Regions from separate parts of the Homo sapiens genome. Here all the other regions are reported to be linked to region 7. The links are microRNA targets in miRTarBase. Many come from high-throughput screens and were not tested one by one. Region 7 holds a microRNA gene; each other region holds the end of a gene's coding sequence. Distances are from middle to middle.

The links. The annotated mature microRNA hsa-miR-6779-5p reads CUGGGAGGGGCUGGGUUUGGC and lies in region 7 at 1,762-1,782, opposite strand. An mRNA with a match to its seed (bases 2 to 7 or 8) in the 3' UTR can be bound and repressed. Matches are read on the target gene's strand: a 7mer-m8 pairs with bases 2 to 8, a 7mer-A1 pairs with bases 2 to 7 and ends in A, and an 8mer does both.
Region 1: the mRNA of CDC42EP4 is a reported target of hsa-miR-6779-5p. Seed matches in the 3' UTR shown: 7mer-m8 at 2,619-2,625.
Region 2: the mRNA of ZNF491 is a reported target of hsa-miR-6779-5p. Seed matches in the 3' UTR shown: 7mer-m8 at 428-434.
Region 3: the mRNA of CGNL1 is a reported target of hsa-miR-6779-5p. Seed matches in the 3' UTR shown: 8mer at 1,347-1,354 and 8mer at 1,481-1,488.
Region 4: the mRNA of MORN4 is a reported target of hsa-miR-6779-5p. Seed matches in the 3' UTR shown: 7mer-m8 at 3,173-3,179 and 7mer-A1 at 3,003-3,009.
Region 5: miRTarBase lists TMEM209 as a target of hsa-miR-6779-5p. Seed matches in the 3' UTR shown: 7mer-m8 at 3,251-3,257 and 8mer at 3,083-3,090.
Region 6: the mRNA of SPAST is a reported target of hsa-miR-6779-5p. Seed matches in the 3' UTR shown: 7mer-A1 at 2,277-2,283, 7mer-m8 at 1,787-1,793 and 8mer at 1,621-1,628.

The regions. Positions count from the first base shown.
Region 1 is chr17:73,281,799-73,285,891 of GRCh38, forward strand. It overlaps CDC42EP4 (CDC42 effector protein 4), which reads right to left. Exons shown (of 2, transcript NM_012121.5): 2 at 1,826-4,093. The coding sequence ends at 3,632. Among named protein-coding and RNA genes, the nearest start is that of CPSF4L, 22 kb to the left of the region's middle. RefSeq lists enhancers at 1-96, 2,949-3,505, 4,061-4,093.
Region 2 is chr19:11,806,931-11,811,023 of GRCh38, forward strand. It overlaps ZNF491 (zinc finger protein 491), which reads left to right. Exons shown (of 3, transcript NM_152356.4): 3 at 1-1,573. The coding sequence ends at 337. Among named protein-coding and RNA genes, the nearest start is that of ZNF440, 5.3 kb to the right of the region's middle.
Region 3 is chr15:57,546,775-57,550,864 of GRCh38, forward strand. It overlaps CGNL1 (cingulin like 1), which reads left to right. Exons shown (of 19, transcript NM_032866.5): 19 at 581-3,943. The coding sequence ends at 716. Among named protein-coding and RNA genes, the nearest start is that of GCOM1, 43 kb to the right of the region's middle.
Region 4 is chr10:97,612,477-97,616,476 of GRCh38, forward strand. It overlaps MORN4 (MORN repeat containing 4), which reads right to left. Exons shown (of 5, transcript NM_178832.4): 5 at 2,079-3,935. The coding sequence ends at 3,787. HOGA1 (4-hydroxy-2-oxoglutarate aldolase 1) reads left to right here. Exons shown (of 7, transcript NM_138413.4): 7 at 1-326. Among named protein-coding and RNA genes, the nearest start is that of MORN4, 19 kb to the right of the region's middle. RefSeq lists an enhancer at 1-69.
Region 5 is chr7:130,162,732-130,166,731 of GRCh38, forward strand. TMEM209 (transmembrane protein 209) reads right to left here. Exons shown (of 15, transcript NM_032842.4): 15 at 1,982-3,774. The coding sequence ends at 3,720. Among named protein-coding and RNA genes, the nearest start is that of LINC03008, 23 kb to the left of the region's middle.
Region 6 is chr2:32,153,826-32,157,918 of GRCh38, reverse strand. It overlaps SPAST (spastin), which reads right to left. Exons shown (of 17, transcript NM_014946.4): 17 at 282-3,545. The coding sequence ends at 3,423. Among named protein-coding and RNA genes, the nearest start is that of SLC30A6-DT, 9.9 kb to the left of the region's middle.
Region 7 is chr17:38,912,673-38,916,765 of GRCh38, reverse strand. MIR6779 (microRNA 6779) reads right to left here and starts at 1,787; the gene lies at 1,724-1,787. It overlaps LASP1 (LIM and SH3 protein 1), which reads right to left. Exons shown (of 7, transcript NM_006148.4): 5 at 2,291-2,441; 6 at 1,620-1,723. RefSeq lists a silencer at 1-91 and an enhancer at 3,895-4,093.

The DNA.
Region 1 (4,093 bases), 34 Mb from region 7:
TGGCCTGGCTGGTTCTGCGTGTTCATCTCATCCTTGTCTCCTGGGTCCACTGAACCCCCAGCCAGAAGGTATGCTCCTTAAAGCTGTGAATCAAGCCAGGTCCCCGGGTCTTCTTGAATGCTCAGAGCTTTTCCATCAATGGTCAAGAAACAGATTCTGGGGCTCGGGGCGGCTGGTTTCTCTGGGCCCCTAGGGAGTCCCTGGTTAGTCGGTGTAGGTACAGTCATTTCTCTCTCTTGGGAGGTTGCACTGTGTCTGGGAGGCACAGCCCCTTCTCATCTGCCTGGTCCTCGCCTGAACAGTACCTTCCTCTCCCCAGTCATCCCTGAGCTAGACTGTAGCCCCTAGGGACCCGTCTCCCAATGGGCCCCAGCTCTCCTCCCTCTCTCTTCTTCCCTTGGGGCAGCCAGAAGTCCCCGCTCATAACTCCCACACGAATGAGCCTGTCTAGGGACAGAGGGAGGGACCTGAGTGACATTTTAATTATGCCTCTAATTGCTTTCCAGGGAGATGAGTGGGGAACTCACATTTCTCTGTGGGTGCTCAGGGGAGAGTGCAGGGTTTCCACCAGGAACTCAGCCACATTGAGATCCCCAAGATTTCCCCAGATTTCCTGAGAGCAAGCGGGGGCTTCAACAAGCAGTGAGCCAGCCCTACGCAGACCAGGGCTCCCTTCTGAAGCTGTCCAGAAAGAGGGGAACATGATTCAAGGGAAGGAGGTGGTAGGGCAGGGGCAGGGCAGTGGGTTCAGGGGCCACTAGACCCTCACCCCCTGACTTTATATCCCGAGGTTTTGATGTGCCCAGGAGTGGTGGGGTGAGAAGGGCAGGAGTTTTGAATGAATTCTGGGCATTAGAGAAGGCGGCCTCGAGGCTTATCTGATCATCTTTCTCCATCTGGAAAATGGGGATGTGGAGCTTCTATCTCCCTGAGAAGTGAGGTTGAACTGAGGACCTGCCACTTGTAAGCTGATTTTCCAGGCTTAACGGTAAAAGGGGAAAGAGGAGGTGGTAGCCCCGCTCCCAGCATCATGCAGAAACTGCCTTCAGGGCCAGCCACTTTCTGGTGGTGACAGTTCCGTGCACCAGGACACCAGGGGGCTGGGGAGAACACAGTCACTCTCATCCTAATCACAACTGTATAAAAAGCCCATGTCGACCGGCACGGTGGCTCACACCTGTAATCCCAGCATTTTGGGAAGCCAAGGTGGGCGGATCACTTGAGGTCAGGAGTTGGAGACCAACCTGGCCAACATGGTGAAACCCAGTATCTACTAAAAATACAAAAATTAGCTGGGTGTAGTGGCGCACGCCTGTAATCCTAGCTAGTTGGGAGGCTGAGGCAGGAGAATCGCTTGCACCTAGGAAGCGGAGGTTGCAGTGAGCTGAGATCACACCCCTGCACTCCAACCTGGGCGACAGAGTGAGACTCCATCTCAAAAAAAACAAAACAACAACAACAAAAAAAAAAAACAAAAAAAAACAAAAAACCAACCCCCTCCCCCACAAAAAGCCCATGTCACTGTTTCTGTGCCTCAACCCTCTAAGAGTGGCAGGATACCCATTTTACAGAGCAGGAGAGGGAGGCACAGAACAGCTAAGCGACCAAGTGCCAAGGGCTTCCAAGAGATGGCAGTTAGGGACACCTGAGTCCCCAGACTCTGAAGGGGCCTGCCCAGGCAGACAGCATCGCAGGAAGGGCGGGTCCTCACGGACAGAGAGACAGAAGCCACCTCAGGCCCCCCTGGACAGCTCTAGGACCTGGGTCCAGACCCCACCCCCATCCTGAAATAGCCCTCCCAAAAAGCAGAGACAGACACCAGGCGTGCTTTAGGGCTTTTTTTTTAATGTTTCCTCACTGTTTTGACAATATCATGAAAAAAATCAGTTTAGAATCTGGAATTGGCCTGGACGGGATTCGAGGGCAGCTGGCGGGGGCTGCATAGCCCCTGAGGTTCCTCCCCCACCATGGGACCTAAGCTATTGGAAACAGGAGCACCAACAGGGCACCGAACCTGGAACTAAGTTAGTGTCTAGAGTCAGGCAAGAGAGGAGAGTCAGGCAAGAGAGGAGGGGCCGGGCCACAGTCGCCATGGGGACGCCCCTGGCTGTGGTTGGTTCTGTGTCTCCCCCTCCCCTCACTGGCTACATGGAGACAGGGAGGTGGGTCAGGCTGTTCCCAGGACAGAAAAATAACCGGCAGTCAACCTCAGGGCTCATACCCGAGCTTCTGCTCAATCCCCTCGGGGACAGTTACAGGACTCAGAGAGAAACGTGAATTTCAGAAAAACAAATCATTTTTCACATAAGTGTTCCAAATATTGCGTGGGGCATATTAATGCTAGAAAATTATCTTTTGTTTACCTGAAATTTGCGTTTAACTCAGCACTCTGTTTTGGTTTTGCTAAATCTGGCCAACCCTGGCCTCAAAAGTCGGTGGGGGGAGGCCTGAGAAAAGAAAGGGAAGTAGTCAGTACTGAGGGTATTGAGGGGAGGGAGGGAATAACTCAGCCAAAAAGAAAAAAAAGGCTTTCCCCCCATAGGAATGATATATTATTTAAAAAAAAAATCGTTCTCCAAAAATATTCTGCACTGGCCTTCCTCAGTTGTTAATAGCTATGGGAGGTGCGTAGGGAAAACACACACACCAGACACCCACCCCATGTCATTCTAAATAAAGTTGGGAAGCACTAAAGTTGAGCTGGTGTCTTTGCCACGGATGTCCCCAGACTCCAGTCCGCTAATCGCCACCAGACTCCAGTCCGCTAATCGCCACTGTGAATTTTGAAGAGGAGGCTTAGTATAAAGGTTTTCTAAAAGGATTGATTCTCATTCTGAGGCAGACCTATTAACACCATCCTGATATTGCTCTATAAGGATTTAAACACAATAATAAAGAACAAACAAGCCCCTAGGGACTGAGCGAGTGCCCTAGCCCTGTTCCTAGTGTCATCCTGGAAGGGTCCCTTCTTGCAATTCACGAAGCCTGGGGGGCTTTCCTTCCATTCTCCATCCTGTTCTCTTCCCCTGGAAAGGGCTGCGTTTAGTGCACATGCTCGCAGCTGGCCCCCCGTCCAGCTCAGCTCCAAGGGGCTCCAGATTTCCAGGGCAGGAGCTGGGGTGGGGCAGGGAGGGGCTGAGAGGCAAGACCGTCTCCCTCCTGCTGCAGCTGCTTCCCCAGCAGCCACTGCTGGGCACAGCAGAAACGCCAGCAGAGAAAATGGGAGCCGAGAGTCCTTAGCCCTGGAGCTGAGGCTGCCTCTGGGCTGACCCGCTGGCTGTACGTGGCCAGAACTGGGGTTGGCATCTGGCATCCATTTGAGGCCAGGGTGGAGGAAAGGGAGGCCAACAGAGGAAAACCTATTCCTGCTGTGACAACACAGCCCTTGTCCCACGCAGCCTAAGTGCAGGGAGCATGATGAAGTCAGGCAGCCAGTCGGCACCCATGCCAGCCCCCTACGTCCTCCGAAGACCCGAGGGCCAGGCCAGTGTCCCTCATCTACAAGGTCCAGGGTCCATGGTCTGAATCAAGGGTCCTGGCTGCCCCTGCGCCGTAGGGTCAAAGGTCATAGTGGGGTGGGGGCAGGGAGAAGATGCAGCCAAGAGCTCCCGGTGGCCACCCACTGTCCGCCTCACACACGGATTTCATCCTCCTCCTCCTCATCCATGAAGGAGAACTCCTTGTCTGGCTGTCTTGAGACAGCAGCCCGGGCCCTGTCCGGCCCCCGGAAGGCAGGGCTGCGCTCCTCCAGGATGCCTGAGGTGCAGCTGGAGAGGGAGCTGCTGTCCCGTGTGGTGTGGCTGCCCATGCTGCGGGCTGAGCCGGGGCTGGGGGCCGCTGCTGCCCACCCCTCATCCTCCAGAGCATGGGAGGGGAGGGAGGGCAAGTCTGGGCCAGCCTTGCCTTCCTGCCTTGCCAGGGGAGGGGCCGCCACGGCGTACGGGGGAGCCTGGGTGATGGTGCCAGCGGCGCCCTCATCGCCATGGTAACCACCCTCCCCCTCCTCGGGGTCCCACTCCTCCTTGTCCATGATGCTGAGGACGTCACCCAGCATGGAGGGCCCCAGGTCGATGTGGAAGGACATGATGGACTC
Region 2 (4,093 bases), not on the chromosome of region 7:
CGATGGGTGTAAGCAATGTGGGAAAGCCTTCAGATCTGCCAAGTACATTCGAATACATGGAAGGACTCACACTGGTGAGAAACCCTATGAATGTAAGCAATGTGGGAAAGCATTTCATTGTGTCAGCTCCTTTCATAGACATGAAAGGACTCACGCTGGAGAAAAACCTTATGAATGTAAGCATTGTGGGAAAGCCTTCACTTGTTCCATATATATTAGAATACATGAAAGAATTCACACTGGAGAGAAACCTTACCAATGTAAGGAATGTGGGAAAGCCTTCATTCGTTCCAGTTACTGTCGAAAACATGAAAGAACTCACACTATTAATATATGAGAGAAATGCTATTTTTTAATTTTTATTTTAATAGAGACAGGGTCTCACTATCTTGTCCAGGTTGGTCTTGAACTCCTGGCCTCAAGCATCCCTCCCAGCTTGAAGTGTCAATAAAGGAAGGCAATAAAATGTAGAGATGGAGTTAGGTGATGCCACGCTGGGATTCACTGGTGGCCTATCTTACATATGATTTCGAAGGCAGACATGAGGAAGGCCTTAGTCACATTTTAGAGCCAGCCAAATTCACATGGGCTGTGTGGCCCCCTGATTCTAGCCCATTTTCCTGATTCTCTGGCTTGTCAATCAAGAGTATCCTCCAAATCTCTTGACTTTCCTTTTTTCAGAGGTGTAGGTTTCCAAAGATGTCCCCAGAAGCTCCACATTCAAGTTCTATCTACAGTTTGGTTTTTCTTTAAGTATTGTAATGTACATACCAGAGAGATAATGCAGACTGTCATGGGTGGGGAATGTTCTCTGATGCTCAACTCCCCTAGTCTGCAGATTGAGTTGGTAGGAGGTGTGATTTGTTTACATGCACCTTTGTTCCTGCTGGTAGTGACCTTGTTCTTGATTCAGCCTGACAGCTACTATGCTGCCATCAGAACCAACTTGATGAGAGCTCTGCTGCCCTGTGCAGTGACTGGTCTCATCCAGGACTCTCATGTGAGAAGGAACACCTTGCTCTGGTCAGGAAATGTCCAGTGTTTCCTGTTATCCACAGGAGAATGTAATGCCTCAGTTCATTTTCAGTTATCTTTGATTATATGTGATTGACAATGTGTATTTTTGAGGGAGCAAAGATTTCTGTACATATTTCTTAAAAATAGTTTATTCAGCTGGGTGCAGTGGCTCATGCCTGTAACCCCAGCACTTTGGGAGGCCGAGGTGGGCGGATCACGAGGTCAGGAGTTTGAGACTAGCCTGGCCAACACAGTGAAACCCCATCTCTACTAAAAGTACCAAAGTTAGCCGGGTGTGGTGGTGGATACCTGTAATCCCAGCTACTCGGGAGGCTGAGGCAGGAGAATCTCCTGAACCTGGGAGGTGGAGGTTGCAGTGAGCCAAGATCACGCCACTGTACTCCAGCCTGGACAAGAGAGCAATACTCTGTCTCAAAAAAAAAAAAAAAGGTTTATTCACTGTTTTTCAGTTGTGTACTTGCAAATGTTTTTCTCTTTTTTTTGTATACTGAGAAGCTCTATTAAAATATCCCTTGTCAACATGGATCAGATCAAATGTATACTGTTACCAAATTATTTGTTTGATATTGTGAATCAATATCACCATGTGTATAAACCTCATTTATTTCCTGATGTAAATTATACATTTCATGCATATCTACTTATAATTTTTACCTTTTTTTTTTTGAGACAGGGTCTTGCCTTTTAACCCAGGCTGGAGTGCAGTGGTGCAATCATAGCTCATTGCAGCTCTGAGCTCCTGGGCTTAAGTAATCCTCCTGCCTCAGCCTCCTGAGTCGCTGGGACTACAGGTGTGCACCATCATGCCTGGCTAATTTTTTTTTAATTTTTAGTACTGAGGAGGTCTTGTTATGCTCCCCAGGCTAGTCTCCAACTCCTGGGCCAAAGCAATCCTCCTGTCTCAGTCTTCCAAAGTGCTGAGATTATAGGCGTGAGCCACTGTTCCCAGCCACAATTTTTATCTTGACCATAATTTGTCATTCTTTTATAATCCCCGAAGTTAAATCTTGCTGTTATGGTGCTGTGTTGCCCAAAACCACCAGTACTAAAAAAACTGTTGTCAAAGAGGATGTAATAAATTGTAGTAATAAATATGACCACAAGCCATAAATGACTGCAGGACATACCAATAAGAGGGTTCTCTGTAGAATTTCTTACAGGATTTCTGTTTTAGGTGCATTGTTCTCTATTCAAGGAGGTGAGTCATTTTTGTATATTGGATGCTGTCAGGATGTGAACTTAATTGTACCACTGCTAATCATAGTAGTTCTCACCTAGAAGGAGAAAGAATGGATTGGAGGTAAACCTAATTGAAGACAATTGCTGGTCAGTCCATTATGAGAAGAGGGGAACTGGAATTTTTGGTTATTTTTATGATTTGAAATATGTTTTCTTCTATCCCATCTAGGGACGTGGTTACAGAATGCCCTCGTTTTTGTCCTGCTCCATCATGGTCACTGAGGAGCACTGCTTCACACTGCAGGTGTCTGACATGGCTTAAGATTTGGCCTTGTGGTGAGGGGAGGCAGCTCCCAGACTTGTGGACCTGTTTTTGCTTTACTTATTCTCCAAAACCTAAGATATTTCTTAGAGTGTATGAACACTGTTCCACAAAATGCTCCAGTTAAAAATATATAAAATCACTTACTCCTTAGGAAGCTGTATAATACTTTTAAAGAAATTCCTTACTGAGTCAAGTGTGGTCAATATATTTATGTAACTGTCTGAATGCACGCCTAGGAAGGATGAAAGTCAGTATCACTATTCCAACCAAGCCTTTCTTGCTCAGATAATATGCTCTTGATGCACCCCTCTTTTTTCTTTTTGACACAGGGTCTCATTCTATCACCCAGGCTATGTGGAGTGCAGTGGCGTGATCTCGGCTCACTGCAATCTCCACCTCCTGGGCTCAAGCGATCCTCCCACCTTAGCCTCCCAAGTAGCTGGGACCATGCCCAGCTAATTTTTGTATTTTTTTTTTTAGAGACAAGGTTTCACCATGTTGCCCAGGCTGATCTCGAACAGGAGTTCAGCAACCCTTTTATGCCACACTGTAGAGTAATAGGCAACATGGAAAAGTTAGTTTTATATATTATGCAGTGGCATGGACCAATCCAATCACTTTTTTGAAGTGCCAGCCAAACTCTTCTTCAGAGAAGCCTGTTTGAAACCCCCTAGAGTCAAAACCTGGTACCACAGGACAGAGCAGCAATGAGTGACCAACCCCTGACTCTATGTGCAGATGACACATCCATCCCCAGATTAGGTATCAACATAAGTGAAAGGTACTGTCATTGCCTGTCATTTTTTTTTTTTTTGAGATGGAGTCTCACTTTGTCACCCAGGCTGGAGTGCAGTGGCACGATCTTGGCTCACTGCAACCTCTGCCTCCTGGGTTCAAGCTATTGTCCTGCCTCAGCCTCCCAAGTAGCTGGGATTACAGGTGCCCGCCACCACACCCGGCTAATTTTTGTATTTTTAGTAGAGACGGCGTTTCACCATGTTGGCCAGGCTAGTCTTGAACTCCTGACCTTGTGATCCACCTGCCTCGGCCTCCCAAAGTGCTGGGATTACAGGCGTGAGCTACTGCACCCAGCCCATTGCCTATCAGTTTTTATAGAGTGTCGCTTAGATCAAGAAAGAGATGGTAATACAGAGTTAGGTGTGTCTGAAACCAAACACGACCTCATCCTTCTCCCTTGAAGGCCAAATGCACTCTGAGAGTTTGGTTAGAGTACAAACAACGCCACCAACTTCACTCCAGATGTGATTTTCTACAGGAGGCGGGCACTGTGTTGGGATGGCCAGTGAAGGTAAGGAACACTAGAGGTGCAGGTTTAGGTGATGAACAGGACACAGCCTGGACATTATTAGCCTTGACTATGGAGGTGTCTTGATGTTTCTCAAATTGAGACCAGTCTGGCCAACAGGATACTGAACTGGTTTTCGATGGAAAAATTCATCTGTATAGGGATCTATTCGCTTCCTTTAAGTTTCAGTTTCGTTATGTGGCATTTAGCATGAGTGACTCCATTTTGGTCTGATCTGGTTTCTA
Region 3 (4,090 bases), not on the chromosome of region 7:
AAGGTTCATGAGATTAGGTTCATGGTAATCCATAGAGCTGAGCCTTTCTTGGAGGCTGGCTGTGACGTGGGGCTCTTTGCTGGCTGCCCGGGTAGTTCTCATCAATGGACAGAAGGCTCCAGCCCATTGAGAGTCCTGTAAAACAGGGCCTATCAGGTCACTGGCCCCAAGGTTGGCATTAGGGTGCAGCATTTAAGAGGGCACCAAAAATCTCAATAATTAAGATAGATAACATTTTAATGCAATATTTAAAAGATAATGCATGCAATCCATGGTGAACAAGATACCAAAATTTTAAATTAAGACAAGATCAATAATAACAGCCTGGGGAAATCAACAATACTGATCCTATCCCAGCCTGGCCCACCCCACCAGCACAGGCTTTCCGTGCCGAAATGGGGGCGGTGGACTCCCTGTGGCTGAAGGGGCCATCAGGTGGAGACCTGTTACATTCATGTGTTTCTTTTCTGTGCCACTCAGTGGGGTGCAGGGACAGCAACCCAAAACCCTCCCTTTAAGTCCAAATTAGCTATGGGCCCCGGCCCAGGGCCAGGAAACATGCCCCTTGTCATTTCAGCAGACTGAAGAAGCTGCCGAGTAAAGTGCTGGATGACATGGATGACGACGATGACCTCAGCACGGATGGGGGAAGCCTCTATGAGGCGCCTGTGAGCTACACATTCTCCAAGGACAGCACCGTCGCCAGCCAGATCTGAGTGCTCTCCCGGGCTGTGGAAGTACCTGTCATTCCTGCAGGAGCTGCAGCCACCCAAAGTGGGAGGCAGGGAGGGGAGCATCTGTCTGCCACTGAGACCAATCACAGCCTCTTTGCACAGCATGCCAGCTCCTCAGTGTTACATTCCTCGCCAGGGTCTCTCAGTGGGTCTTCGACAGAGAGCTTTTGCAGTTTAAAATGTTGGGATGCCTGAGGACCAGGAGCCACCACCCACTGGGGTGTTGTGAGAGATACACTTTGGTAGGCTGAGGCCCCTGTTCCACAGCCACTATTTGCATTGCTGTCCCTGCCCCCTCATCACTCCCCCTGCCAAGACAAAGGGTCCAGAAGGCTAGGACTTACTTAATAGCACTGTGCAGGGAGGAAACCATGTATAGCTTGTACATATTTTAAACCAGACCTTCTCACGAACTGCTGCTGTTGGGTTTGGAATGTGATGGAGGCTTGGTAGGGTGGCTGGTTTGTAAAGTTCATGCATCTATATTGAGTATTCTTTTTTTTTTTTTTTGAGATGGAGTTTCATTCTTGTTGCCGAGGCTGGAGTGCAATGGCGCAACCTTGGCTCACTGCAACCTCTGCCTCCCTGGTTCAAGTGATTCTCCTGCCTCATCCTCCCAAGAAGCTGAGATTACAGATGACCACCACCACTCCTGGCTAATTTTTTGTATTTAGTAGAGACGGGGTTTCACCATGTTGGTCAGGCTGGTCTTGAACTCCTGACCTCAGGTGATCCACCTGCCTCAGCCTCCCAAAGTGCTGAGATTACAGGCATGAGCCACCACGCCCAGCCATTGAGTATTCTTTTTTAAAATATGAAGCTATTAGATTTTAAGTGTTGAGGAGCAGAGGTGAGAAGAGAGAGAGAGAGAGAAAGTCAAATAAAGTCAAAGACCAGTTTGGAAACCAAAGTTGGAAAAGAAGAATTGTAGTGGTCATGGACAGCTAAGACTGAGCATAGCAGTTCACATGGTCTGGGTAAACAAGTCACTGGCACAGGGGAAAGCCAGAAGGTTGCTTGTGTCTGTGACTGCAGCTATGGCCTTGTTTGCTTAGTTTATCTGGAATTCTGTTATAATTTCTGAACTGTTCTGAGACCTGTTCCCAGTCACTGATTGCAATTTCTTTTACACAGGTTGGGTAGGGAGAGTTGTAGGTAAGGCCTTAAACAAATGAGGCCGTTTCTGGAAGGATAGGGCTGTGTGGTCATGTCCCACAGCAAGCTTTTGGGATCGGGGGAATAAGAGGGTATGGGGGAAAGGTTCATAGACTTAGGTGTGAGAATGAGGTGGGAGGTGTCTGGTAAGGTCATGGGGGAAGGGAGATGAGAGAGGAGATAGGCAGATGTGGGTATGGGGCCCAGTGTGAGAAGGAAGACAGAGAAGTTCTTGAAAGCTGGGGGATGTGTGGGCAAGAGGTGGATTGAGCAGGATCTCAGGGTTATGTCGAGGAAGGGAAGAAAGAAACAGAAGTCAGGCAGAGGCGTGTCTGTGCAAACTGGAGGACTCCTTCCAACTTCCTGGAACAAAGCGACATCGCCAGCAGCAGGCTGGCAGGGAGTGGTTGAGGTCTGGGGGCCAGGCCACATGGCTGGAGAGGAATTTCAGGGAGCATAGCATCGGGAGGATGCTACATATCCAGGGACTCCCTCCTGGCCTTCCTGTGTCACTTCACAATGTGACAGTCCCCAGGCATGCCCACAGGCCAGGCCCAGTCACAGCTGGGCTTCCACAGGTCAGAATATGGGACAGGACATGGTCAGGGAGAGGACCCTGTGAGTTGGTGACATATATGTGGCAGAGATGGTAGTGTTCAGCTGCTTCAGCAGTGTCCCCAACCATCCCAATAGGGTGGGGGCCTGTGGGCCAGAGGACTCCATGACAGTAGCCATGGAGTCCCACCTGTGCCAGGTCAGAGCCCACCCGGCAGGTTTCAGAGTGGTCAGCCCAGTTTAAGGGTGGGAGTCTGGAGCCAGACAGCCAAGCCCCTTCCACATCTACAGGGTCACTGTCATCCTCACCACAGCCAGGGGTGATTCTCACCTCTGCCTGCTTATGTGGGGTGTGGCCGATTCCTCCCTTTAGTCATTCATTCATTTAGCACATATTTATTGGGCATCGGTGATGTGTCAGGCACAGTCCTTGGCACACAGAATACAGCAGTGAATTAAACAGGCAAAAATTCCTCCCCTCCTGGAGCTCAGTGTCAGGAAAGGGGGTGATAAATGACAATCAAATCGACATGGAGGTTGAGCACCTCTGTACTCAGCCCTCTGTCTGTCCTTCTGAGGACGCAACAAGCCTGGTTCCCTAGAGCTCACTTTGACCCTCAATATGTTCATAATTTCCCTGCTGCTTCTCCCATCGTTAGACATCTGCCAGTAAGCCTGCTGAGAGAAGCCTCAGCCCACTCATACCTAGAGACGCTGCTGGGGAAGGTCAGCACACCCAAGAACTTTGGGAGTGTGTGTCTGTTTTGGTTTGTGAGAAAGTAGCTGCCCCTCATTCTGGCCAGTTCTTTCCAGTAGCCATGGGGCTGGCTACAAGAAGCAAAACTGCCCATGCAAAGAGAACACAGGTCACTTTTCAAAACACTTGCATCATTACCCTAAAAATAGGCTGTTATGCGTTTTGACAATTGCGCTATCCTACACTCTGAGGGAGTTGGCAACGCATGCGGTATAGTGGAGTGGGAAGAGTTGAGACTGAAAGTTAAGAGAAGGGTTTTCAAGTCCCGGCTCATCTCACCCCAGTGACTTTGACAGTGTGCTCACTCTCAGAGCCATGGATTACCTGGAACAAAGTGCAGATTAGTGCCCACGGTCCTTTCCAGGTATAACATGCTATCGTTCTTTAATTTTATTATATATACATACTTTTCTTCTGTTTTTTGCTTTAAGAACTAACCCCGATCAAGAGTATTTTCTTTAGCTAGCTTAAAAAGAAAACATATATTTTATGTAAAAACACATACATGGCCAAATGCAATACTGAAGAGACAATCATCCTGTATCTTTTATGGTTTTTCCTGCTTCTGAGTGTCGTTCTACAATGCCCGTTGACTTATTCCATTGCGTCTCTGCTTTAGGGTATGGTTTGGTCGCTTTGGTTGTCATGAGAAAGAGACATTCTCCTTGCAGCTACCTCCATGTGAGTGAATTCCTGGATAAAGCAAGATTTCCTTTCAATAAACGCTGTCACCCAATGGGAATTTTGACTCTCCTGTGATTGTGACTTCTTTGTTTTCTCCAGAGCTTGGCTCTGTGTCCTTTAAGAAACTGCCAAGGTGAGTGGCTGGGAGCTACTGAGGGAAGTGGAACTTGGAGGCCTTCCAGCCCTGGGACCGGTTTCTGAAACA
Region 4 (4,000 bases), not on the chromosome of region 7:
CCCTCCCATCCCTGCCCTCCACACTGCAAGCTGCATTCCAGCCACAACGCCCTTTTCTAAATCTATTTTCATTCATCTCCTATTCTGGTCTGTAGCCTTGATTCCAACCATTGAATGCACGGAGACAGCCCAGTGGCTTGTCAGATTGGTAAATAATGACACCTGGTGGATAAATGTTACATTCTAGAAGACTATTCTGGTCAGCCTAGGTCTGAAACACTAAGGAGACTTGGCCTGAGATAGGGCCATCCACTTGCCTACAGGCACTCTGCTTTTATTATTAAAAATAGTCACTTTGTTACTATAATAAAATTTAACAGAAAAAATTAGTGTGGCTATATAAAGATGGACACTCTATTGCTATGCAGATCTTAGGTTTCCTGGCCAGATGTCAAGAACCTTTCTAAAGGCAAAAGAGCTCTGATGGTCTGCCTTCTCCCAGCTCGAAGAGTGTCCCCAGCAATACTGAGCCAACAGGCATTCACTTACTGGAGACCTGGGGAAGGGGTAAGAGGCAAAAGAGAGCAAGTGAGCTATTTAGAAACAAACACTTAGCACTTTTATTTTATTTTTTTGAGACAGAGTCTTGCTCTGTCATTCAGGCTGGTGTGCAGTGGCACGATCTCGGCTCACTACAACCTCTGCCTCCCAGATTCAAGTGACTCCCCTGCCTCACCCTCCCGAGTAGCTGGAATTACAGGTGTTCACCACCATGCCCGGCTAATTTTTGTATTTTTAGTAGAGACAGCGTTTCGCCATGTTGGTCAGGCTGGTCTCGAACTCCTGACCTCAGGTGATCTTCCTGCCTCGGCCTCCCAAAGTGCTGGGATTATAGGCGTGAGCCACTGCACCCCTTCAGCATCCTTTTTGATTAAAGTGCTAAGTGTTTAGGGCCAGGCAGCACTTTGGGAGGCGGAGGCAGGAGGATCACATGAGGTCAAGAGTTTGAGACCAGCCTGATCAACACGGCAAACCCCATGTCTACTAAAAATACAAAAATTAGCCGGGCGTGGTGGCACACGCCTGTAATCCCAGCTACTCAGGAGGCTGAGGCACAAGAATCGCTTGAACGTGGGAGGTGGAGGTTGCAATGGGCCGAGATCGTGTCATGGCACTCCAGCCTGTGCCACAAGAGCAAAACTCCATCTCAACAACAACAACAAAAAAGGATGCTTTCTCCAAAATATTTAACCTTTTTCAGTGGTAATATTTGACTAGTGGCAGAAAAATGGAGATACATTGTAAAAAAATTACTCCTTAAAAGAAAGTGTAAGGTTAAAAAGAGAGGTAAATAGATACTTGTTTAGGGCAGAGGCTAAAGGAGAGAAAATAAAAGATCTCAATCTTCAACCCAAAACCAGGCTCTGAATGGCACTACAGCTTGGGGCTTAGTGCCTGGGGTCCTCTCACAGGCAACTTCCAGAGGAGCAAGGCTCAGAGGAGAATCAAGTTTAGGACTTGGGGGAAAAGTTAGGGCTAGGCAGGCAGGGTAGTGCACTGGGTAAGAGCTCAGCCTCTGGGCTTAAACAGGTCTGGGTTTAAGTTCTGGGATCTGCCCCTTAGTGTCTATGGGACCTTGGAGAAACTGCTTAACTTCCCTGAGCCTCATCTGTAATACAGGGATAATAATAGTACCTTCCTCCAACAAGGACGTGCATGTAAAAGGGTTAGCGTGGGGGTCAATGTTCCACCACTCTCCTGTTGCAGAAAAAGGGAAACTCCGGCAGGAGTGGACCTGCCAGAGGTAACCCAGCAGGTGTGGCCATAACTAGTCTCAGGACTTAAGTACTCTGATGCTCAGGGTGAGAGAGGTCCAGTAAAGGGAGCTGGAATCAGAAAGGCTCGGTTACAAATCTCACCCAGCTGTGCTACCTACTAGTTGGGACAGCCTGAGATTGTCTGATTTAAATAAGAAAAAAAAGTTCATACGTCCTCCTCTGTAGAGGCTGAGAAAATTAGATGACTTGATAAAGTGTGCAGGGTCAGTTCCAAGGGCTAACCCGATTAACTTTTACAAACAGCAAATGGGTTGATATTCATGAAGACGCAGGGCCAGAAAGTCAGGAAAACTAGGTATAGGCAGTTCTGGTGATTTCTTTATTCTTTATAAACACCTTTTTCTACAGTACAATTCAGAGAATAAATAGAGGCACACGGCTATAACTTCCACCACAATCTGCTGTTGAAGAGACATTCAATGTGAGGCTAGGGAGCTAGAGGTGGGGGACGTATTTGGGTACCAGGGTAACGGGAGGCCTACGTAATAAACTGCAGAGATCCCATCAGTAAGGTCTGATTGCGGCCTGACGGTCAAGGCTCATGATAGAAGAGCTACAGTGAGCCAAATGCTCCTTTAGTTCCCCACAGTCCTAGAGTAGGTCCAATTCTACCAAAACCCCAGGGGTTCGGGTGAGTCTGATTTATTGGTCCACTGGGAAGAAACTGTGTCAGCCCAAGCCATCCGTATGAATTCAGTTCACTCCATGGTAGTGCCTGAAGTGGCCTAAATATTCTACCCTTTTCCCTGGAGTTAGTCACAAATACAAGTAATAAGATTACTGTTTACATGAGTTTTTTTCTTGATTGTCCCAAAAAGGGATCCTGTTCCCCATCTAAGGAAGGAGAGAGGCACACATGGGGATTATCTGCTCTAAGTTGATGAAAGAAGACAGCCTGTCTTCTAAAGGGAGGAGGAAATAGCACTCTTACCGAATCCTTCACGGGGACATAGGCAGGAATGAATACCAGTCTGATCAGACCAAGTGGAAGCCTGCAGCCATGATTCCAACCAGCATGAGGAGTAACATATGGAAAAGCTCTGCCAGCCAGGCACAGTGGCTCACACCTGCAATCCTAGCACTTTGGCAGGCCCAGGCAGGAGGATCACTTGAGCCCAGGATTTTGAGATGAGCCTGAGCCACATAGCAAGACCCTGGCTCAATTTTTTATAATAATAAAATTAAAGGCTGAGCGTGGTGGCTCACGCCTGTAATCCCAGCACTTTGGGAGACCAAGGCGGGTGGATCACGAGGTCAGGAGTTTGAGACCAGCCTGGCCAATATGGTGAAACCCCGTCTCTACTAAAAAAAAATACAAAAATTAGCTGGGTGTGGTGGCGCGCTCCTGTAGTCCCAGCTACTCAGGAAGCTGAGGCAGGGGAATTGCTTGAACCTGGGAGGCAGAAGTTGCAGTGAGCTGAGATCATGCCACTGCACTCTAGCCTGGGCGAGAGTAAAACTCCATCTCAAAAATAAAAAATAAAATAATAATAATAATAATAAAAAAATTAAAAAAGAAAAGCTCTGGCCTTGACTTTCACAGGGCTGCTGTACTGAGCCACCCCTATCTTTTCCCTATTTCTCCAGAGTGGCACAGAGCACTGGCCCTAAGCTGGGGCTAGGATCACCTGTCCCCAAAGCAGCAGAACGAAGGTTCTGTATCACTTGGCAGAAAATGAAGCAGAAGGGTCACAGCAGGCTACACTGGGTAACCTGAGGTCTTAGGAACAGAGTATCAACCAGTGAGAAGAGGTGGCTCCTCTGTCCTCCAGCACATAAGGGTTAGGGAAAGACAGAACCACCAATGACTGCTGCAGGGTCTGCTGGCCAGCATCCTCAGCACTTTTCTGTGGTCCAGTTCTGGAATGGCAGGTGACAGGGCACATACAAGGCCTCTGCTCCACTGTCATTGTCAACTCATCTCAGCTCTGATTCATTTGTTCACCTCGAATCAACAACAGGGGCACTGGCTTTACCCAATACTTATCAGCTGGTGCCCACTGCGCTGTCAGGCAGTGAGATTTCTGGCTGACTTGGAGGCGCTCTGGGCCCGCTGAACAATGGCAGAACACTTCTCACGTCGCAGCAGCTTGTTGTTCTCAAAGAGACCTTCATTGCGGGGGATTCCATGAGAACCATCAGGGAAAGTCAGCAGGCCTTTGAGGAGGGCAGAGAAAATATGGGAGTGACAATGGCATTAATGTCTCAAAGATGAGACATAT
Region 5 (4,000 bases), not on the chromosome of region 7:
ATGAGGACCTACTGTTCGACTAAAAGTCACTTCTGAATCCATTCATGTAGCTGTTGAGTGCCAAAGGAGGGGCACAGATCTAATCACTCAAGGGGAGAAATGACTGCCATCTGGAGTGGTCAGGACTAGCTCCAAATAGAAGGTTTAATTAGAGGAAGTCTCAATGCAGAGGAAGACAGTAGATTGGGAGGGGGCATCTCCAGAGAGTGATCAGGATGAGCAGGAGGTAGCATAGAGAGAACCCAGCAAGCAGTGAGCAGTCTGCACTGGCTGGAGCCAAGGGTTTAGGTGCATGAGGCCAGGTTGGGGCCAGATTGTGTGGAGCTTTAAATGTCAGGCTAAGGAATTTATCAGGGGGATGAAATGATCAAACAGGTGTTCTAGGAAGATGAATTTGAAGAGAATGTGCAGGATGAATTGGAAAATATGGAAGCATGGCAACAATTCGAAGGCTGTGAGATTAATTAGGCTGTTGCAGTAGTCCTGTGTGGGTTGATAAGGGTGTAAATGAGCATAGTGGTGGCAGAAATGGAAGAAGTGCAGCTGCAAGAGACATTGTTAAGAAAGAATGGATGAGGTTTGTTGCCTGATTGGATTGGGGACCCAGGGAGCTCCAGGAATCAAAAGATGACACCAGAATTTTGAGCATCGGTAACTGGTAGTACAATGAACAGAAAAAGGGATGTAAGTAGAGGGAGCTGATTTGAGCAGATGTGAACGCAGTTCCAGACACGGAGTTCACAGAATATCCAAGCGGAAATGTCTGACAGGTAGATGGAAATCAACACTACAGCTCAGGAGAAACATTATGCTTGAAGATGAATTCGGGAGTCAAAGGCAGAGAGGTGATAAATGAAGTGGAATGAATGAGATCTCTAAGGAAAAGCATATACAGTGAATCAGAGGACCAAAGACTGACCTTTGAGGAATGTGTGCATTTCAATGTGCGCATTTCTATTACAAAGCTGTCTAGAAAGGGCTGGGTGTGGTGGCTCATGCCTGTAATCCCAGCACTTTGGGAGGCCGAGATGGGCGGATCATGAGGTCAGGAGTTCAAGACCAGCCTGGCCAACGTGGTGAAACCCCATCTCTACTAAAAATACAAAAATTTGCCGGGCGTGGTGGCGGGTGCCTGAATCCCAGCTACTCGGGAGGCTGAAGCAGGAGAATCGCTTGAAACCGGAAGGCAGAGGTTGCAGTGAGCTGAGTGTAGTGAGCTGAGATCATGCCACTGCACTCCAGCCTGGGCAATAACAGTGAAACTCCATCTCAAAAAAAAAAAAAAAAAAAAAAAAAAAAAAAAAGTGCCACCCCACATGCTGCGTGTCTTTACTGTTAAAATATAAAATATCAGTGTCAAGTATATTTTAGTTTGAGAAAGAAAGCCACACAACGTAACATTTGTATGTCTCAGTAGAAACTAAATTATAAACACCTAATATGCCTCTAAAAGAAATCTGGCTTAAGGATGATATTTATAGACAAAGAAAAGGATAAATGATGAAGTGAATGTAATCTAGAAGATTAGTGGATCTGATCCCACAAGAAGTCAAGCAATCAAAGAAAAACTTGTGACATATATCCTGTAAATAACATTTGATCAGAGATATTAGTAGGCATTTATCCATTTTAACACAAGGACTAAAAAAATTGCCTTATTTGCAGTGCACTGTCTTCCTGAGGGGTGAATTCAAATGAATCTACCAAAGTATTTTTAATAAAAGCTATATTTAAGTACAAACTGGCTCAAATATTTGGGAAGAAAAGCTAATATAGGAAAGCTACCCAGAGTACAGTAATCCACACTAGACTTATTAATAGTATGCAAACAAAACATCTTTTTAAGTGTGTATCCCTATGTATATATTTACTGTAGACTGTATTTTTTTGATAGTCACTTTAAAAATATAATATTAAAGCTTTGAATTTTTAGACTAAAAGCTATCTAAGTCCTATAAAGAAAAAAAGACATTTCATCTTATGCATTGTTAAAATGTTTCTCCATGGTGCTTTTAATGAAGTATATGCAACTAGTTTAACAGCATGACAATTGTTATTCCAAGACATCTTCAGTAACTTTTGAAATAGCAAATTTAAATTTTAACATGTTCTTATATTTAACATGTTTGATATTTTCTTCTAGAATATCATAGCAAATAAATATTCAACATACACCAAAAGTACTTAAAAGAAGCTCCTTTCCTTTGGACATCAACTTTTAAAAACACGAACAACTTTTTGAAAGACAGAATTTACAAATACAGAACTGTACTGACTTAAATTTGGAATTTACTAATTACTGGGGATACTTTAGTGAGTCTGCATATGTGTATTATTAATACATGTTAAACCATACTGCAGATAACAAAAAATATACTTACATTTCTCTTCCAGAGAGTAATGACTGTATTCAAAGTCTGAGGGAATGACAAAACGGGATGCACATCTAACACTGATACACGGTTCTTCAGAAAAGACTAGTTTCAGCTGTTTCCAGGTTTACATAAGATGATGGAAGCAGTCTCTAATATGTTAATCAAGAAAATATATGCAATTGCCAGCTACTACATATACAGAAAATAAAGATGGTGAGTCAAACAAAACATACAAACTTGGTAACTTCTCACCCTCCAGATATTTTGAACATATTTAAAAAATTTGAAGATAGGATATCACTGTGATCTTAAAAAGAGAACTTTAAAAATAACACATTATGGAATAGTAAAACTGAGCTGCTAAAACCAAAGTAGTAAACAGTTTTCCTGATGTCCTCACACTCTTAACTAAAACCCAAATTAAAACTACCAGCTAAATTTAATCTAAGTGTTGACTTTTTAAATGTCAATACTTTCAAACCTCCTTTAATAATATTTTAAAATATACATAAACTTAATACATTACTTAAGAGTTAATCTCATTTCTTTGAATGTGGGCTTTGGCCTAACTTGCAGAATGCTGGGGAAACATTAAAAAAAAAAAAAAAAAAACTAAATCAGCAATTTTCTTACTTTCTAAGTACTTACACTGTTAAATAAAATAACTGAGGCTGGGCGCAGTGGCTCGCACCTATAATCCCAGCACTTTGGGAGGCCGAGGTGGGTGGATCACCTGAGGTCAGGAGTTCGGGACCAGCCTGGCCAACATGGTGAAACCCTGTCTCTACTAAAAATACAAAAATTAGCTGGGCGTGGTGGTGCATGCCTGTAATCCCAGCTACTCAGGAGGCTGAGGCAGGAGAATTGCTTGAGCCTGGGAGGCAGAAGTTGTAGTGAGCTAAGATCGTGCCACTGCACTCCAGTCTGCGTTGACAGAGACCCTCTCTAAAAAAAAAAAAGACTGAAAAAAATTTTTTTTTGGTACAAGAATCAGGTAGATGATTCTCATTTGGGGGTTACAATGAAAAAAAGACTCAAAATCTATTTCATTAAGGGGAATGGCACTATTTTGAGTCAATAAAAATCCGAAGGGTTGCAGTTTTGTAGTCAACTGAAATTTCTGAAAAGCGATATAAAATTAAAGGCAATGTCTCGATATAGAAGATACGGGACATATTTTTACAATTACATTTCATAACAGCTACATTTTCTGTTAAATCTAAAGAGTCTGTAACATACACCCATGTGTATTTTATTTCAGAAGAGTCAGTGGCTCAGAGATGTTTAGTTTCGACTTCTGGTTCAGTGAAATAGTCTAAATGTCAGAATTAAATATATGACTTGCTACTCGCCAAAGATCCACAATATATTCACACCAGATAGACCAAGATTAACTCTCCTATAAAGAGAAAAAAAATTTTTATTAGAATTGGTTGCCAAGCATTTAAGGTCTTTTTCTAATAACAAAAAACTTTATGAATAATACATGTTTAACTGATATTTAATGTGATTCTGCAATGAATTATGTTATACATGGTTTATCAGGTGAATTCCAGTAACAGTAATTACTTTCTTAACTATGCCTAAAACCCAAATTTAGAATAAATAGATTTATGGAGTGTTGA
Region 6 (4,093 bases), not on the chromosome of region 7:
TTCCCCAGGCTGGTCTTGAATTCCTGAGTGTAAGCGATTCTCCCATACTGGCCTCCCAAACAGGCATGAGCCACCACACCCAGCCTGAATCTCTTCCATTATAGGACTTTGCAGTTTCTACCTTGTTTTGATTGCTCTGCAGAGCCACCCAATCATTGCTTTCTATATTTTGTTAAGCGTTTATAATTGTTACTAAGAGTCCAATACACACAACTCCTTCATTATCAGACTCCAACCCCTAAAATATCAAAAAGTTTTAAAGTAAAAAAGTAAAGACAAAATAAAGTTTATCATTTATTTCCAATACATTAGGATAAAAACCCACTTTATGCAACTGTACCCTTTAATTCATTTCTTCTGAAGAAAAGTACAAAAGACCAGACTAAAATTGAGACAAGCATTTAAAGGAAAATCCTTTGACTCAGAGTCCAAAACCGAACTGTAAATGGTTCATTTTACCAAAAGAATTAGTTTTTGTACAAAATATAAAGAATTCTACACTATAAACAAAGACGGCTGTATATGTAATTAAATTAGAATTCTAGTATCTGCTTTTCCTCTAATTCTTCTGGAGTACAAACATATTTGCAAGTCAGAAATCTAATATTCTCAATGGACAGACTGTCTTAGAATAAGCTTTTACCCTTAAGATATCTGGAAAGATAGTACTCATTCTTTCCCTTGGCTCAAAGTCCAATATATCAGTAAGTTTTAATTTAGTTTACAAAACTCTGCCATATTAACATGAAGAGCACACTAATGCTTAATGTTTAAGCATTATCTTTTAGGAAGTAATACAACACAGAGCTCAACACCGAATCTAAAAGGTCACAATCTAAGTCATTATTAATTCAGAAAACTTCAGCAACTTCTATCTTTATTGAAAAAGACCAAACCAATCCCTTATCTCCTACTATATCATTACTCTATTTTCATGGCCCTTCTATCAAAGAAACAGCTTAAAATAAAACTTGGTTAGAGTTAAGTCATAGAAAATAGTTCTCTAGCACTAGCTGAAGTTCAGACTTGATCAGGAAAGCAACTTCTATACAGTAATGATTTTCTGACTCAGTGTTTAAGATAGTATTAACCTGACTTTTATCTCTTTTAACATTTGAAATCTTTGTTATCTAAAAGTCTTTCCCAATAGAATTATAACCATGATAGTTTTAAAGGAGACAATATATTAAAAGTTGAGCTGGAACCACATAGTCCTTTAATATGATTAGCCAGTTATCCAAGTATCAATAACGTTAATCTTTTAAATGAAAACAATGAAATTTTATGAGCTTAACTGAAATGTCTTAATTTAGAACTTCTCAATTCTTTTCATCATATATATTTCATTACTACCTTTCGTTATCAGTATTTCATAATTGATGTTGTAATGTTTGAGACCTTAAAGGGATACTACCCATCACCTAACATATGCATAGCTCTGGCTTGAAAAAAATTTTTTTTCCCCTATTTATCTCAACTCTCATTTTTATTATTCAGGGAGTTCCAAAGTCATGATTGGAAGAGACATGATTTACCTTATGGCTACAAACAGCATATGATCCTAAGAAATCATGCATCTTCTGGCTGGGCGCAGTGGCTTATGCCTGTAATCCCAGCACTTTGGGAGGCCGAGGCAGGCGGATCACCTGAGGTCAGGAGTTCAAGACCAGCCTGACCAACATGGAGAAACCCCATCTCTACTAAAAATACAAAATTAGCTGGGGTAGTGGCGCATGCCTGTAATCCCAGCTACTCGGGAGGCTGAGGCAGGAGAATTGCTTGAACCTGGGAGGCGGAGGTTGTGGTGAGTCGAGATTGCGCCATTGCACTCCAGCCTGGGCAACAAGAGCGAAACTCTGTCTCAAAAAAAAAAAAAAACCCAGAAATCATGCATCTTCTATATTCAAACAAATCTTTAACAAGAGCAAGAGTAAAATTAAGAAGAATGTATGTCTTCATTATAAAGTTCTTACCTAGTAGGGGCAAGTTTTTTATTTTAATGTATTCTTTCAAAACCTAAGAAATCTTTCCTAAATGAAAAATTCTTGTTACTACTACAAATATTCTTTCCACTCATGACATTTTACATAGCATCATTTAAGCACCAGAGAAAAGTTCTGTAAACAAACTTTTAACCAGTAAACTAAGGGCAAATATCTATTTGCCTTTATTACAATATTTAAAAGGCCATGATATGAGTCTCTACTCCCTACAATGACATTTTTATAATGAAAATCCAGGCATATTTATACAAACAAATGGAATTACTGTACATTTTGGGAGAACAAAAGGCAGATCAACAGACTAGAACTAGAACTTTTGAGTTAATAAAGCAAGCAGAAGGAACTAGAAAAATGTATGCCATGTATAAAAATTCAGTTTTTTTAAAGTTTCATTGAAGGGATTAATAATTATTAAGAATAAAAGATGGTAGTTCCACTTGCTTATAATTATCCTGTAAAATTAAGAAAGTAATAAGCAATAAATTAGAAATGTCTTAGTTCCTAGTATTTCCCTTCTCTTGCACTGGAAACATTTTCACAGCAGTTAAAATTGGCTCTCTTAAATATCAGAATAATTCTTGCAGAAAATAAATTCCATCAGGAAGAAGTTAACAGTCTACAACAGATTTCTGACAAATACATTAGAAAAAAAAATACTGCAGGTCACATGAAGACTGATCTACATGTTATATGACAGAGTAACTCAAACCTTCAAACCTTCTCTATTTTACCATATTTGCTTTTTTGCTATTATATTGCTATCTAAACTGTTTGGTAGCAAGGTAATAGAAAAATAAAAGGTAAAAAGAACACAACAATTGTTTAATGTCTGTAGATTTATGAAGAAGAAACTCTCAAAATAAACTTTTTCCTATTACAGTTACTTAGGAAAAAAGTTTCATTTGGCACACTGAATTTATAAAACGAAAAAAGAAAATAAACTTAAGAGTGTTTGGCATTCCAATCACCTGTAGTTAAGACAACAGTAGAAAAGAAAAGTAGGAGAAATTACTATTTTAAGAAAAAACATCAGAAGACAAACAAACAAATGTTCTTGTGTCTTCTACCATTCACTGTTCCTGGAATACTTTCATCTGCAACACAATATACAAATTATTATTTACATTATGATTATATTGGTAAAGAAGACCAGAATCAGGTTTTGTTGTGCTCTAACTTAGTGTCCATTGGGATAACTGTGACCATCAAGGCAAGGCCTTAAACAACAAAAAATTACATTTGCATTGTATATTTTGTTTAAGTCTGTTTTCTGGTTCATCTTCAAGTTTGGTGCACAAATATGTAAGACTCTAAAAAGTCCTGTAAACTTAGGCTGTTTCTGTAGCCGATGACGTTCATTGAAGATCTTGTGTTTCCTCTTTTAAGTAAAATGTTCTGCAGGTTTACAAAGGTATTTCCTTAAACAGTGGTATCTCCAAAGTCCTTGTTCCAACGTATGTACGCTTCTAAAGTTTGAGGGCTGACGCTGCGTTTTATTTTTTTCAAGGATTCAGTGAAGTCAGATAATCGAATATTTCTCATCTAGATTTTTAAAAAGCACATGACAATACAAATGATCAACAGGTATATGGTGGTTAACGAAATGATGGATTAAAGTAATGATGCTGCTGTTTCTTAATGTTATAAAAAATATACGTGTATGTATTCTTAGAAAATTATGTCAGCCATTTAAATATATTTTCTATGTTGATCTGCTACACAAGAAACCTTAATAAATGCTATACTAATATATTTATTACTTGTGTTTAGTTTCATAGGTATTAACATTTGAAAGCATAATATTTTTCCAATATAAAAACAAAACACAATCATTTATAGAAAAGTTCAAAAATACAGACAAAGAGAAAAAAAGAATCACAATTTCACCACTCAGATATGCAACCTCCCCCTCCAAGGTTCAAGCAATTCTTCTGTCTCAGCCTCCCGAGTAGCTGGGATTACAGGCACATGCCTCCATGCCCAGCTAATTTTTGTATTTTTAGTAGAGACAGGGTTTCGCCATGATGGCCAGGTTGGTCCTGAACTCCTAACCTCAGGTGATCCGCCCACCTTGGCCTCCCAAAGTGCTG
Region 7 (4,093 bases):
CCTCAGCCTCCCGAGTAGCTGGGATTATGAACATGCACCACCATGCCGAGCTAATTTTATATTTTTAGTAGAGACAGGGTTTCACCATGTTGGCCAGGCTGGTTTCGAACTCCTGACCTCAGGTGATCTGCCCACTTTGGCCTCCCAAAGTGCTGGGATTACAGGTGTGAGCCATCGCACCCGGCCAAATGTCTTTTTTCTTTGGAGATATTGCTCTGTCACCCAGGCTGGAGTGCAATAGTGCAATCTTGGCTCACTGCAACCTCTGCCTCTCGGGTTCAAGCAATTCTACTGCCTCAGCCTCCCGAGTAGCTGGGATTACAGGTTACAGGCATACACCACCACACCTGGCTAATTTTTGTATTTTTGGTAGACAGGGGGTTTCACCATGTTGGCCAGGCTGATCTCGAACTCCTGACCTCAAGTGACCTGCCCGCCTTGGCCTCCCAAAGTGCTGGGATTACAGGCGTGAGCCACCACCCCCGGCCAAATGTCTTAATCCAGCTGCTTTCTATCCATCCCTCACCCTGCTGTCTTTCTCTTCACAGCGTGTCACCGCTGACCTTATGTTATACACCTATTTTCTTATTGTTTTCTTGTTTGTCCCCCTGACTGGAATGTAAGCCCCCAGAGGGCAGAGAGGTGGCTTTATATTCAGAGATGGACCCTACACATCCAGGACAGACCCATTGAGGAGGGAGGGACTGGCTGGGCTGCCTGGAACCTTATACTTCAGACTAACTCTTGCGCCCACAGTGCCCTGGGCAGTCCTAACATCCCTTTGTTTGTGTGCCCAGAGCATCAGACTCCAGCCAGCCATTATCTCAGGCGATTTTATCTCTCTAAGTATCTGTTCTGCTCCTACGTGAGCTACTTTGAATTCCCAGGCACCCAGCCTGGAGGCGCTGAGCCTGCCAGGAGCTTGGTAAGGGTGGCTCAGCGGCACCCATGGGTGGAGTGAGTGGCAGGACTTACAGAGCCGGGACTTCAGCTCTGAGGGCTCAGGAAGCCTGATCTCACCCCATTCCTGCTGGGCTTATTCACTTGCTCTAGGCCTGGCTCAGAGTAGGTGAACCAGACGGACGCTGCCAGGGTCCCCAGCCCAGCAGGGGACACAGAGAAGGTGACCAACACGAAGAGCTCTTTTTAGTTGGAAAAAGTGCTCTGAAGGCAGCCAGCGGAGTCGAGTGATGCAAAGCATCAGGGTGATGCGCTTTACACGACATGGCTGGGGAGGCCCCTCAGAGGCAGGGGCAGCCTGAGAGCTGAAGGATGTGGGGGCCATCCTCATGAAGCGAGGAGAGCAGCGCCCAGTGCTGGAAGGCCCCATGCAGAAAGTTGCCTTGTGTGTTCCCAGGTAGCTGGGGTAAGGAAACCCCACCCAAAGCAGGGTGAGCAACCTGCCCATGGTACACCAGGGCTGGAACGCAGGGCCCCAGTCCCAGCCAGCCTCTGCCCACTACGCCAACCAATTTCCTCTCTGCTCACAAGGCTGAGATCCTTATCATCACACACAACAGAGGGTGGGTGCAAAGGTCAGGAGAATCCATGAGCTGTGTCCAAGCCTTCCCGAAGGACCCCCTGCCTCTGGCCTCTCCCCTCCGGCCAGGGTTACTCACCCCGCCACCACCTGGGGCGCTGCGCTGTATGGAGACTGGGGCTGCAGGCTCCTTGTAGCCACCATAGGACTGGGCCACCGGCTGCTGCTGGGGCTGCTGGTAAACTGGAAGATGGGAGGAGACAGGGCTTGGAAACTGTCCTGCCAAACCCAGCCCCTCCCAGAGCTCCCGAGAAGTCCATACCATGCACTTCCACCCCGCCCCCAACCTGGCTCAAGCCCCACAGCTCAAAGGCTGATGTCCACGTGTGCACATTTGCCTGTGTGTTGTATCCCACGCAGGGGCTCTGAGCCCCATGACCTGGGGGCCTCTCCTTTCAATCCTCTTGGCCCAGTACAGGCCTGACCCTGGTGCTCACGTCCTCATTCTGGATGAGAATGGAACTTGGGGTCTTGGGAAGCAGTCTTTTCCTCGCCTGCATGCGTGCGTGCATGTGTGTGTGTGTGTGTGTGTGTGTGTGTGTGTGTGTCTGTCTCTCGCCGACTTCCTCCCCACCCCAGCTGGCCCGGCCTCAGGTCCTCTGGTCCCCTCTTGCACACAAGAGGCATAATCGCCTGTTGATTAAGAGCAAGGCTCCGGAAGGTGTATCTGTCTGTCTGTCTTCTCCTGGCTTCCTCCCCACCCCACTGGCCTCGCCTCAGGTCATCTGCACCAACAGGACCTGCACTCACCCGGGGCACTGGTCGGGATGTGGTGAGGCTGCTGCTGCTCCAGGGGCCGCCGGTAGCTGCTGCCGTCCTGTGAATCCCGACGCTCTGGCTCCATGCCCTCGCCCCCGCTAGGGCCCATGCGGCTCTTCTCAAACTCCTCATGGTATTTTATCTGCAAGGTCAGAAGGCACTAGGTGAAGGGTCCCACTGCAAACCACCCAGTTCCTTCCCGTGACCCTCAAGATCCCAGGATGGGAGAGACTACCCAAGAGCTTTGGGTACAGAAAGCCAGGTCTCGCTCTGGAAGCACCAGCTGTGTGTCCTTGGACAAGCTACCTAATCTTGCCAAGCCTCAGTTTTCACCTCTGCAAAATGAGACACCAGTCTCCCTCAGACACTGTTGGAGAATGCAATGAAATGACCGATGTAAAAGGACCATGAGAACTGAAGAATCAGACCAAAGTGAGTGGTCCCTTTTCTTTTTTTTTTTTTTTCGAGACGGAGTTTGGCTCTGTCGCCCAGGCTGGAGTGCAATGGTACGATCTCAGCTCACCGCAACCTCCACCTCCAGGGTTCAAGTGATTCTCCTGCCTCAGCCTCCTGGGCGGCTGGGATTACAGGCGCCTGCCACTACGCCCAGCTAATTTTTTGTATTTTAATAGAGACAGGGTTTCATCATGTTGACCAGGCTGGTCTCAAACTCCTGACCTCAGGTGATCCACCCGCCTCGGCCTCCCAAAGTGCTGGGATTACAGGCGTGAGCCACCGTGACCGGCCAAGTGGTCACTTTTATATGCCTGCGGCAGGGGCGGGGCTGCTCTGTTTCCGCCTGGGTCCACAGTAACCACAGCAGCAGCCCGTTTCCTGAGCTCTTACTGCGCCAGGGCCGTGCTAGGTGTTTTATGTCACAGGCTCATGTGAGCTCGTCAGCGCCCCTGAGGGGTAGATTGCAGACCCCATGTAACAGGCAAGAAGGAAGCGAAGGGATTGATAAGTGAAGTGAGTGGCCCAAGATCACAGATTCCAGAGCCTTGCTCTTCATCAACAGGCGATTCCACCTCTTGTGTGCAAGATGTCGTGGGTACTACAGCCTAGGATGCTCCGCTGAGAATCCCAGCCTTTAGGGATAAAAACTGCCAGACCCTCCCTGAGGGCGGGACATTGTCTTGGATGGGCTCCTTCTCGGGTCAGGTTCCAAAAATGAGCAGAGAGGCCCAAAGAAGTCATATCCCTCAGGACCACCCCACTAGGCGGGCATGTGAGGCTCCAAGCCTTCAAGTCAGTCTCTTGCCCCCACAGTGCTCTACTGGCTACAGAGTCCCCCACCTTGACCACCACCACCCAGGAGTCTTGAGTTGGGCCTCATGTTGTTTGAGGGCTGTGACTGTGCCTGCCTGGGGCTGGCTGCATTAGCCATCAAGGTCAGGAGGGCAGGGGAGGCAGGTGCCCACCAAGCCAAGCTGGGGAGGGGAGGGAAGCTGCACTCTGCCCAGACCCCTTGGGTGCTATGGTGGAGGACTTGGCCAGTTTGGGGGAACCAGAGCCCCTGCTACCTCCATCAGAGACCTAAGCAGGGTCAGCCAGAGGAAGCCCCACCTCCACTACCAGAAAGAAACCTCAGGGTCAACTGGCCCATTTGTGTCCAGAGCCTCGGCGCCAGCTCAGTCCTCTTAGCCAACTGAGTTAGAGAGAAATGGTCGTTCATTCACCTTGTCTTCTTCAGGCTGAGTCCCATGGTGGGACGAGAACACCGGCCTCGGTGTTCCCTGCTAGATCCAGATCCTGATTGGCCCCAGGCTTCCTCCACCTCCCATCCCCCATGGC